Linked DNA regions of Homo sapiens. The protein of the gene in region 1 purifies or fractionates together with the protein of each later gene. This does not show direct contact. Each region holds a gene or a part of one and is shown in the gene's direction. Other genes may lie near its edges.

The links.
Region 2: the proteins of SYDE1 (region 1) and RPAP2 purify together in Homo sapiens (affinity purification with mass spectrometry; 2 studies listed by BioGRID and IntAct, with this or other methods). This does not show direct contact.

Annotation. Positions count from the first base shown.
Region 1 is NC_000019.10:15,110,131-15,115,494, forward strand, and holds the end of SYDE1 (rho GTPase-activating protein SYDE1), read left to right. Parts: coding exon 1-218; intron 219-390; coding exon 391-605; intron 606-1,182; coding exon 1,183-1,309; intron 1,310-1,501; coding exon 1,502-1,662; intron 1,663-2,215; coding exon 2,216-2,441; intron 2,442-3,429; coding exon 3,430-3,833; 3' UTR 3,834-4,844; downstream 4,845-5,364. Other genes in the region: HACL2 (2-hydroxyacyl-CoA lyase 2), read right to left, coding at 5,122-5,300. UniProt on the Homo sapiens protein: GTPase activator for the Rho-type GTPases. As a GCM1 downstream effector, it is involved in placental development and positively regulates trophoblast cells migration.
Region 2 is NC_000001.11:92,393,048-92,400,337, forward strand, and holds part of RPAP2 (putative RNA polymerase II subunit B1 CTD phosphatase RPAP2), read left to right. Parts: 3' UTR 1-7,290.

The DNA of each region.
Region 1 (5,364 bases):
CAGGGACCTCTGCTGCCTACTGCAAGTGGATGGGGAGGCCAGGGCCCGAACAGGGCCACTGCGAGGGGGGCCGGACTTCCTGCGGCTGGACCACACCTTCCACCTGGAGCTGGAGGCCGCCAGGCTCCTGCGCGCCCTGGTGCTTGCGTGGGACCCTGGCGTGAGAAGGCACCGGCCCTGTGCCCAGGGCACCGTGCTGCTGCCCACGGTCTTCCGAGGTAGGACATGCGGCTGCAGGGGAGGAGGGGCAGGGACCCCCAAACCCCACCGCCACCCCCCGCAGAGTGCCTAGGGGGCTGGGCTCCGGGCGGAAGGTGTGGCCTGGAGCAGCGAGGCCAGGGTACATGAAGCTTCAGAGCACACCCGGCTCAGGCCCCCTTGTGTCCTCAGGGTGCCAGGCCCAACAGCTGGCCGTGCGCCTGGAGCCTCAGGGGCTGCTGTATGCCAAGCTGACCCTGTCGGAGCAGCAGGAAGCCCCTGCCACAGCTGAGCCCCGCGTCTTTGGGCTGCCCCTGCCACTGCTGGTGGAGCGGGAGCGGCCCCCCGGCCAGGTGCCCCTCATCATCCAGAAGTGCGTTGGGCAGATCGAGCGCCGAGGGCTGCGGGTGAGCACCCACCCCACCCCAACCCTCTGGCCCCCAGACCTCAGACCACTCTTCAGGACACCCTATGTACAGATGCCAGACCCCTACCCCCAGGCCTGAGCCACTCCTAGCTCCAATCCCAACCTAGACAAGGGCAGAAGGCGCCCCCTTGACTGTAGCACCCTGGGCAGAACCCATGGGTCATCCATTGATTTAAAAACAGGATCCAAGCCCTCCTGGGGCTCAGAGTCTGATGGGGGAAAAGATACGACTCTAGTCATTCACAAATGTAAAACTATAACTGGGACTGGAGTTGGGGTGGGGTGTACCTAGGGTCTGGGAGAGCTTAAAACAAAACCTGGGGTAGTCATGGAAAGCCTCCTCAAAGAAGTGTCAGTTTCCTAAGTCAAAGGAGATGGCAGCCAAGACAAGTAGTCCAAGCAGAGGGTTTACAAGGCCAGGTTGTCAAGGTAGTTCCAACCTCCCAGCCCACAATGCCCATTGCTGCCTGGCCCAGAATTCCAGTGCTCACCCCACTGGGCCCTGATTAGTCTGTGGCCCCGGCAAGAAGACATTCACTCTCTCTTCCCACCCCCAGGTAGTGGGACTGTACCGTCTTTGTGGCTCAGCGGCAGTGAAGAAAGAGCTTCGGGATGCCTTTGAGCGGGACAGTGCAGCGGTCTGCCTATCTGAGGACCTGTACCCCGATATCAATGTCATCACTGGTCAGCATGGCCCCCTCTCCCCTGCCTGCTCACCCCCATTCAATGCCTCACTTCAAGGCCTTGGGGCTCCTCTGGGACCTCAGTCCTCCTATCTGACCTTGCTTTCACCCACCTCCTCTTCCCCCTTAGCTGTGCCCTCCTTAGCCTTAGAAGCCAGTGGTGCCCTGACCAGAGGGGACCCTGTGTTCACAGGCATCCTCAAGGATTATCTTCGAGAGTTGCCCACCCCACTCATCACCCAGCCCCTGTATAAGGTGGTACTGGAGGCCATGGCCCGGGACCCCCCAAACAGAGTTCCCCCCACCACTGAGGGCACCCGAGGGCTCCTCAGCTGCCTGCCAGATGTGGAAAGGGTGAGTTGGGCCTGGTGGGAGTGATGGGACTTGAGAGTGGGCTGATACCAATAGAATGTTTCACCCATGCCTGGGCCTGAGATGGGCATGAGCTGGCAGCATCATCATATCCCCAAGAAATAGGTGCTATTAGCATCCCACTTCATAGATTTGGAAACTGAGGCCCAAAGCAGGTGACAGTTGCCCAAGGTCACACAGCCAGGATGTGTCAAAAATGCAGGCTGAACGCTGATCTTTCAACCTACAAGGGAGGTTCCTGGCTGAGGGAACCTAGACAAGTCCCATCCCTCTCTGTGCTTCAATATCTTCATCTGTAAAATGAGATTCATGGCAGCTCTGCTTTTCCAATGCTTAGTTGCCTTTGGCTTCAGTCTTCCCTCCAACAAAATAGGCTCATAATACTAACATCTAATGATTAATAGTCTTAACCCGACCACATCCCAGCTATGAGACTGTGAACCTGCTTCCCTACTCTAGCCACCTTAGTCTCTTGCAGGTAGGTGCCACAGGGGCCTGACTTTGTCTGACTTACATCCTCTCAACCCTCTCCCAGGCCACGCTGACGCTTCTCCTGGACCACCTGCGCCTCGTCTCCTCCTTCCATGCCTACAACCGCATGACCCCACAGAACTTGGCCGTGTGCTTCGGGCCTGTGCTGCTGCCGGCACGCCAGGCGCCCACAAGGCCTCGTGCCCGCAGCTCCGGCCCAGGCCTTGCCAGTGCAGTGGACTTCAAGCACCACATCGAGGTGCTGCACTACCTGCTGCAGTCTTGGCCAGGTGAGTTCATGCCCAGGGCCTGCACCACCAATCTGAGCCAGGCTGCTACAGTGATGCCACCTTAAGGGACCAATCAGTGTCTTAGGCTTGAAGCTACGCCCCCTCATGGAGTAAACTGGTACCTGGTTGCCTCAGCAACCAGTTCAGATCCAACCAATCTGTCTGTTTTGTCTTTTTTTATTTTCATTTTTTTGTAAAGACAGGGTTTCTCTATATTGCCCAAGCTGGTCTCAAACGCATGATCTCAAGCCATCCTTCCGCCTCAGCCTCCCAAAGTACTGGGATTATAAACCAAATCACCTTGCCCCACAGAGCTGATTCATCTTTTTATTTTTATTTTTTATTTTTTTTGAGATGGAGTCTTGCTCTCTAGCCCAGGCTGGGGTGTGGTGGCATGATCTCAGCTCACTGCAACCTCTGCCTCCCAGGTTCAAGGGATTCTCCCACCTCAGCCTCCCGAGTAGCTGGGATTATAGGCACGCACCACCAGTCCTGGCTAATTTTTATATTTTAAGTAGAGCAGGGTTTCACTGTGTTGGCCAGGCTGGTCTTGAACTCCTGACCTCAAGTGATCCACCCATTTCAGGCCTCTCAAAGTGCTGGGATTACAGGCATGCACTACCAATCCTAGCTAATTTTTGTATTTTTAGTGGAGATGGGGCTTCACGGTGTTGGCCAGGCTGGTCTTGAACTCCTGACCTCAAGTGATCCGCCTGCCTCAGGCCTCCCAAAGTGCTGGGATTACAGGCATGATCCAGGCATGATCCACAGACCTGCCCCTACCCATCTTTGATGCAGTCAGAGGCCCTGCCTCTTGACATGCCAATCAGAGGCCTAGTTGCGTAAGCAACCAGTCCTAGCTCTGCCAGTGAAAACCTGAAAGGGTCGAAGGCCGCTTTCCACAGGCCAATCAGGAGCCTAGTTCCCTAAGCAGCCAATCAGAGGTCGGCTGTCGCCTCTTTCTATGACCTACCCTGTCTCCCTTCAGATCCCCGCCTGCCCCGACAATCTCCAGATGTCGCGCCTTACTTGCGACCCAAACGACAGCCACCTCTGCACCTGCCGCTGGCAGACCCCGAAGTGGTGACTCGGCCCCGCGGTCGAGGAGGCCCCGAAAGCCCCCCGAGCAACCGCTACGCCGGCGACTGGAGCGTTTGCGGGCGGGACTTCCTGCCCTGTGGGCGGGATTTCCTGTCCGGGCCAGACTACGACCACGTGACGGGCAGTGACAGCGAGGACGAGGACGAGGAGGTCGGCGAGCCGAGGGTCACCGGTGACTTCGAAGACGACTTCGATGCGCCCTTCAACCCGCACCTGAATCTCAAAGACTTCGACGCCCTCATCCTGGATCTGGAGAGAGAGCTCTCCAAGCAAATCAACGTGTGCCTCTGAGCCAGATGACGGGGTGGGACCCCGGTTAGTAAGGACCGGGCGCCCAGTGGCTAAGGCGGTGCCCTGGTGACCAAGGAGAGCCAGACCTGTTGCTCAGGCCGAGCTCCTGGTTGCCAGCGAGTTACCACGGGACCAGTCGCGTGTATGGCTGAGACTCATTCCCAGTTTCCAGGGCCCGGTATTTGGACACTAGTTGCCAAGTCTGGGGCCTGGGGATTTTAGGGACCAGCGGTTGTGACCATCTTTCCTGAGCACCAAGGGCTTCCCCTTTTGTTGCCAAAAAGGTAGTTCTCGCGCTTGCTAGGCTGGCCTCTCTTGCCTCCCCTTGGCCGGGGCAACACCAGTTACTGTGAGCATCACCCTGGTGTGGTGAGTCACCTCTAGTCGGCCCTCTTGCTGCTGCCAACCAAATCAGTATTAGCTTTGAGCACTGCACTGTTTCTCCCTCCCTTGGACGACACAAAGACTAGCATGAGGCACTGTTTGTGGGGGGCAGCCCCTATCCTGGGTTCCAGCATGGACACAGGGGTAGCCTGGGGCTTATAGAGAAACAGCTGGTTTCCCCTACCCTTTTCCGGGGAAGTCCCCACGATTGGCCTCTAGTCAGCAAATGGAGATAACAGAGTCTGGCCTTTCCAATCCCCATCTCCTTGCCCCCCCCTTGCCCCCCCCCCCGAAAAAAATTGAGCACTTAAACCCCTCCCTTTTGGAGGGGGCCCCCTGAAGCGTCAGGCTGGGGGCAGTCTGGTACGGAACATATTTATTGCCTCCATGCATGTGTGTGTGTGTCTGTGAGGACTGGTGTGCGTGGACACGTCTGAAGCAGGCGTGTGGGGCTCTTTCAGGGACCACAGAGGAGGGAGCAGTTTGCAGTGCCCAGCCACCCTGAAATCCCCAATAATGGTGCCTCAGTGGGCCCCAGAGTTCCAGTGGGAGAGTACGGTTCCCTCCTGTCTCCCTCTTCTTTTCCGCACCTCCATCTTTGTGGATAATAAATAAATATGCACAGGTTCTGAGACTGAGTACTTGGGCCTACATGGGCCAGAGGTGGTTTATTCAGTCTCCATAAGAGAGGGGACAAACGGCACAGTTGGGTCCGTGAAGAGGAGGGTCCAAGAGCTCACAAGAGAGCCTCTCTGAGATTTGACCCCTCCATCCCCTCCTCAGGGAGGTTGTGGAGTCACTGGGCCTCATGGGATAGGCCCAGGGCAAGCAATGATGAGACTCCAAACCAGCTGGACACAGTCCAGGGGCAGGAAGGCAGCCAAGCGTCCTGACCCACAAGGCCCTATACAGCAATGGAGCCATCGCGGAAGTCCGTCCTCCCAATGAGGATGTTGACCACAACCGGGTGGCCGTCTCGGCACTGCTGCTGGGCATCGTGCAGCACCTTGACCACCTGATCCTCGTTCTCCCGTGAGAGCAGCAAGCCCCGGGCCCCCAGACCCATGGCTGCCTTGTGATAATCTAAAAGAAGAGATTAAGTCGGATAGTGGCAAGGACTCAGCCCACCGCACATGCAGCCAGCCCA
Region 2 (7,290 bases), on another chromosome or scaffold:
GCTGGAGGCATCACACTACCTGACTTCAAACTTTACTACAAGCCTACAGTAACCAAAACAGCATGGCACTGGTACAAAAACAGATATGCAGACGAATGGAACAGAATGGAGGCCTCAGAAATAACACCACACGTCTACCACCATCTGATCTTTGACAAACCTGACACACACAAGCAATGGGGAAAAGATTCCCTATTTAATAAATGGTGTTGGGAAAACGGGCTAGCCATATGCAGAAAACTGTAACTGGACCCTTTCCTTACACCTTATACAAAAATCAACTCAAGATGGAACAAAGACTTAAACGTAAGACCTAGGACCATAAAAATCCTAGAAGAAAACCTGGGCAATACCATTCAGGACATAGGCATGGGCAAAGACTTCATGTCTAAAACACCAAAAGCAATGGCAACAAAAGCCAAAATTGACAAATGGGTTCTAATTAAAGAGCTTCTGCACAGCAAAATAAACTATCATCAGAGTGAACAGGCAACCTACAGAATGGGAGAACATTTTTGCAATATATCCATCTGACAAAGGGCTAATATCCAGAATCTACAAAGAACTTAAACAAATTTACAAGAAAAAAGCAAACAACCCCATCAAAAAATGGGCAAAGGATATGAACAGATACTTCTCAAAAGAAGACATTTATGCAGCCAACAGACATATGAAAAAATGCTCATCATCACTAGTCATTAGAGAAATGAAAATCAAAACCACAGTGAGATACCATCTCATGCCAGTTAGAATGGCGATCATTAAAAATCAGGAAACAATAGATGCTGGAGAGGTTGTGGAAAAATTGGAACGCTTTTACACTGTTGGTGGGAGTGCAAATTAGTCCGACCATTGTGGAAGTCAGTGTGACGACTCCTCAAGGATCTAGAACTGGAAATACCATTTGACCCAGCAATCCCACTATTGGGCATATACCCAAAAGATTATAAATCATTCTACAATAAAGACACATGCACACGTATGTTTATTGCTGCACTATTCACAATAGCAAAGATTTGAAACCAACCCAAATGCCCGTCAATGATAGACTGGATTAAGAAAATGTGGCACATGTATACCATGGAATACTATGCAGCCATAAAAAAGGATGAGTTCATGTCCTTTGCAGGGACATGGATAAAGCCGGAAACCATCATTCTCAGCAAACTATCACAAGATCAGAAAACCAAACAACGCATGTTCTCACTCATAAGTGGGAGTTAAACAATGAGAACACATGGACACAGGGAGGGTAACATCACACACCAGGGCCTGTGGGGGGTGGGGGGCTAAGGGAGGGATAACATTAGGAGAAATACCTAATGTAGGTGACAGGTTGGTGGGTGCAGCAAACCACCATGGCATGTGTATACCTATGTAACAAAACTACATGTTCTGCACATGTAACCCAGAACTTAAAGTATAATAAAAAAAATAATTATTAAATTTTAAAAAACTAGCCAGGCATGGTGCTGCACACCTGTAGTCCCAGCTACTTGAGAGGCTACATTGGGAGGATTGCCTGAGCTTGGGAGGTTGAGGCTGCAGTTAGCTGTGACTGTGCCAGTGCACTCCAGCCTGGGCAACAGAGCAAGACCCTGTCTCAAAAAAAGAAAAAGAAAAATTCAGAGAGATTAAAGAAGGTATCAAGAAATGTAGACACAATCCATGTTCATGAATTGGAAGATCAAATGTTGTTAAGATAGCAGTTCTCCCCAAATTAATCTACAATGCAATCCCTATCAAAATCACAGCAGGCTTTTTTGAAAAATTGACAAGCCAATCTTAAAATCTGTATGAAAACATAAAGGATTCAGAATAGCCAAAATAATTCTGAAAATGAAGAAATAATTCTGATCCAGAACTTACTACAAAGCTACATTAATCAAGACAGTGTGGTACTGATATAAAGATAGGCATACAGATCAGTGGAACAGAGTCCAGGAATAAACCTTCACATTTATGATCAATTAAGTTTTGACAAAAATCCCAATGAAATTATGGAGAAAAGATGGTCTTTTCAACAAATAGTGCTAGGATATTTGGATATCAAATGCAGAAGAAATTAATTTAGATTCTTACCTCCTACCATATGCAAAAATAAACTCAAAATTGATCACACACCTACATGTAAGAGCTAAAACTATAAAACATGTAGAAGAAAACATGGGAGAAAACCTAGATGACCTTGGTTTAGGAAGAATTCTTAAGACACTAATAGCACAATTCATAAAAGAAAATATTAATAAATTGGACTTCATTAAAATATAAAATTTTGTTTCAAAAAACTATTAAGAAAATTAATTGGCCCGGGGAGGTGGTTCACATCTGAAATCCCTGCACTTTCGGAAGCCAAGGAGGGTGGACCACTTGAGCTCAGGAATTTGAGACCAGACTGGACAACAGAGCAAAATGCCATCTCCACAAAAAATACAAAAATTAACCAGGCATGGTGGCGTGCTCCTGTAGTCCTGGCTACTCAGAAGGCTGAGGTGGGAGGATCTCTTGACCCTGGGAGGCAGAGGTTGCAGTGAGCCAAGATCACACCACCGCACTAGAGCCTGGGTGACAGAGTGAGACCCTGTCTCAAAAAAAAAAAAAAAAAAAAAAATTAATTGAAAAATCACAGACTGGGAGAAAATATTTTCAAACCATAATAAGTATCTGATAGAGGACTTGTATCTAGACTATGTAAAGAATTCTTAAAACTCAAAAATAAGGCAGACAACTTAAAAATGGACAAAATGTTTGAATAGATATTTCAGCAAAGATATACAAATTGCTTAGCATATGAAGAGATGTGTACTATCACTAGTCATTAGGAAAATACAAGTTAAAAGCAAAATTAGATACCATTTTGGACCCACTAAAATGACTATAATAAAAAAGACAGACAAAGATATGTGTTGGTGATGATGTGGAGAAACTGGAGCCCTAATGCATTGCTGGTGGGAATGTAAAATGGTGCAGCCACTTTGGAAAACAGTTTGGCAGTTTCTTAAAAAGATAAACATAAGTTTACCATATGATCCTGCTATTCCATGAGAAGAGAAGTGGAAATGTGTTCACATCAAGACTCGTAGGCAAATGTTCATAGCATTATCATTCATATTAGTCAAAAAGTGGAAACCAAATGACCATCAACTACTGGATTTTTTTTTTTTTTTTAAGAGATGAGGCCTCACTATGTTGCATACTCTGAAGTCAAACTCCTGGGCTCAAACAATCCTCCTGCCTCAGCCTCCTCAGTAACTGGGACTGCAGGCAGGCACCAACATACCCAGATTATTTCTTTTTCTTTTTTTTTTTAACTGGTGGATTTCTTTAAATGATATATGTATACAATGGAGTAGTGATATAGGCTACAATATGGATGCATCTCAAAACATTATGCTTAGTGAAAGAAGTCTGATGCAATATCCCACATATGGTATGTTTCCATTTACAGTCCAGAAAAGGCATATACTAAATTAGCAGTTGCATGGGTCTGATGTGAAAACATGGATTGCCTGCAGATGGGCACAAGGGATCTTTTGGGGGTGACAAAAATGTTCCAAAACTAAGTTGTAATTTTTGCACAACTTTTATGTGTGTGTGTGTGTGTGTGTGTGAGATGGAGTTTCACTCTTGTTGCCCAGGCTGGAGTGCAATGGCGCGATCTCAGCTCACCACAACCTCCGCCTCCTGGGTTGAAGCATTTCTCCTGCCTCAGCTTCCTGAGTAGCTGGGATTACAGGCATGTGCCACCATGCCCGGCTAATTTTGTATTTTTAGTAGAGACAGGTTTTCTCCAGGTTGGTCAGGCTGGTCTCGAACTCCTGACCTCAGGTGATCCTCCTGCCTCGGCCTCCCAAAGCGCTGGGATTACAGGCGTGAGCCACCACACCCAGCCATTTTTGCACAACTTTATAAACTTTAAAAATAATTGATTTATGCACTTAAAACAGGTAAAGTTTATGTGTATAAATTATACCTTAATAAAGCTATTAAAAGTCAAAGATTATAACAGGGCCTCTCTCTCTCTGACCTAGTGACCTAGGGTAAAGAGAAAAAGAAGCTAGCCAGGCACAGGGGCTCACACCTGTAATCCCAGCACTTTGGGAAGCCAAGATGGGCTGATTGCTTGAGTCCAGGAGTTTGAGACCAACTTGGGCAACATAGCAAAACCCTGTCTCCACCAAAAATAAAAAAAATTAGCCAGGCATGGCGGTGTATGCCTGGAGTCCCAGCTACTCAGGAGTCAGAGGTGGGAGGATCACTTGAGCCCAGGAGGCAGAGGTTGTAGGGAGCCAAGATTGCACCACTGCACTCCAGCCTGGGTGACAGAGCAAGACACTGTCTCAAAAATTAAAAATTAAAAAATGAGGGAAGCTGCTGTATCTCCACTTCTTCCCTCTCTGTGCCCAGAGATATCTCTTCAGTTATCTCACATGCCCTACAAGTCTAGAGACCTCAGGTGAGGAGCCAGTAGCTCAGTATAGAAACTAAGGATCCAAGTGGACAACTGCCACCAAGTCACCACAGGGCCAGCTGCTTTGGGAGGGTGCTGCATCTGCCTCCCATACACTTCTGCCAAGTTTATGTTAGTTTGGGAGGACTGAAGCAGAATTCAGTTCAAAGTACTGTGCTGGATTTTGGTTTCTAAATATTTTCCAATAGAAAAGAACCCAGGCTTCTTGAGAAAATAGCTAGGTTCTAAGGCTAGAGCCAAAAAAATGCAAGATAAGCCTGGAGCATCTTGTAGTACCAGAAACTAAGCAAGTGCTCAAAAACAAAAGGATAGAAGCATGTCAGACAGACACAGGAGCCAATCTGAAAGAGCTCCCTGGCCGGGCACGGTGGCTCACGCCTGTAATCCCAGCACTTTGGGAGACTGAGGTGGGAGGATGACTTGAGCCCAGGAGTTTGAGACCAGCCTGGGCAACATAGGGAGACCCCATCTCTACAAAAAAGTAAACAATTAGCCGGGCATGGTGGCACACGCCTATAGTCCCAGCTACTCAGGAGGGTGAAGATCACCTGAGACCAGGCGGTCAAGGCTTCAGTGAGCCATGATTGTGGCACTGCACTCCAGCCTAGGCAATAGAGTGAGACTGTCTCAAAAAATAAAATTTTAAAATAACTGAAGAGTATAACTGGATTGTTTGTAACACAAAGGATAAGTGCTTAAGATGATGGAAACCCTATTTATCCTGATGTGATTATTACACATTGCATGCCTGTACCAAAATATTTCATGTAACCCATAAATATATACATCTACTATGTACCCACAAAAATTAAAAAATGTTTACAGGAGTGAACCACCGCACCTGGCCAGTGGAGTCTTTTTAAGGTATTATTTAGCATCTTCTGCTTATAGTCATGTCCAAAAACCAGTTGATCTTCCTACTCATTAGGGGACAAGATCAATTCTCTAAAAAATTAACCTAGCCCAAGGTAAGTGGTACTATTCTGAAATCTGAAAATCTTTAGTAGCCTCACATTATAAGCCCTTCGTAGAAAAAGAAAAGTAAGCATTTCTAGAAGCACATTTTTGTTGGACTGAGGGTGGGGCAAGGAGCAGGGGTGACTTTCATCTGAAATGTACCTAGGCAGGCCAGAGTCTGAGTTAGGACTGGCTCCTGGGACTTTGCCATCCAGGCCAAGAAGCATGCTCCAGTGTGCATGCACTCTCATCAAAGCCCTAGTCAGGAATCCCAGCCACTCCTCTCCTGTGCAGCACAAGCTGAAGGATAAGGTGTGGGGCAGTGACTGCGTGGGGCTGCCTGTGTGATTCCTGATAAAGAAATGCCTTCATGAAATGTATTGTTCCCCAATAAAGCTCATTTTCTGTGAGAATTCATGTGTCCTTTTCCAAATTAAACTAGCAAAATATGAACTTTTGTAAAAGGTCCACACCCAGCCAGTTTTCTACTCTCTAAATGTTCAGGCCTTTGCCTGTCCTTCCCTCAGCAAAAATACTGTGTTTTGGAAAACATTACCAATAAAGGAGCTGGGAGGTGGAATTGGATCAAAATACCTTTAGATGAAAGCAGCAGCACAAGCCATTCCCTTTAAATGAGCTGGCCTCACCTCTGGGGCCTATGAAGAAAAGCCTGCTTCAAGGTGATAGTTTTCATTTTGCTTCCCAGCACCTCTGCAGTCATAACCAAAGTGAAGGACAATATTGCATGACTTCAGAAGAAAGCCATCCAGCCACCTTGCAACATGTTCAGGAAATTCTGGACTCCCTTGGGGCTTGCAAAACTCCCTATGTCTTGCAGACCAAAAGCAAGTTCTCAGTCACCTAGCTCTAGTTTGCATAATTAAAGAAAGTGGAAGCTGGTTCTTTTCTGGGTGACCCTTCACCCAACCAAGCTCATAAGGACTTGTGACAAAAATAAGAGCAATAAAATGAAGTTTTAACAGTGAAAACTTCTATCACTTAGATAAGCAGGAAAAGCCAGTCCCCTAGATGCCCATCTGACCCTACCTTACTGGGGTCATACAGCCAAAGCAGTGTCCACTTCAGGTACTGTAATGTTTTGAAGTTGACACATATAATTTAATGTAGTTTCATGTCATAAGTTATAAGACTTTTCAGAGAAACAATTTAGTAATATCTTCTGTAATACCCATCTTCATTTTTTATATGAAAAAGCATAGCCTATGATCTGTCACCTTGCTCACTCCCACATCCTTACCTCTTATCCTTCTCACATCGTCCCATTAACACATTATCCATCTTTGGGGGGAAAAAATACACTAAATTTTAGACAGAGTCACTTTCACTATGGCCACAATGGGAGAAAAGACAGTCCACCTTCAAAGTCAACCAGAATGACTCTTAACCTCTCTTGTCTGGGTTGGGCATCCAGATAAGATTTTCTTCGTACAAAGAGTCTTGCTACTAGGAAAAAGAGTTTGAAAATCACTAGTCTAACTAAATATCTCACTTTAAAAAAAGCACAAACTAAGACTCAATGAGGTTTATCTTCCACAAGATCAGCCAGTTTTAGCAGAGCAGTTGCTAAAACCCAGGTCTCAAACTCCTTGTCTATGGCTCATCTAACTAAGCAACAAAAAGCCCAATGAGCTCTGGAGAGAGAGAGGGAGCTAAAACAGGACTCAATCAAAACCCACTTGGGATTAGGGAAGCCACCCTCTGTGAGTGAGTTAAACTGAGATTCCCTCCCCTTCACCCTGGCTTCCTTTGCAGAACAAGGGTCACCGCCAGAGGGAAAGCTGAGTTTACGGAGGGGATCCTGGTTGGAGTCAGAGTATACCTTGGTTTGGTTTTGTGGGGTT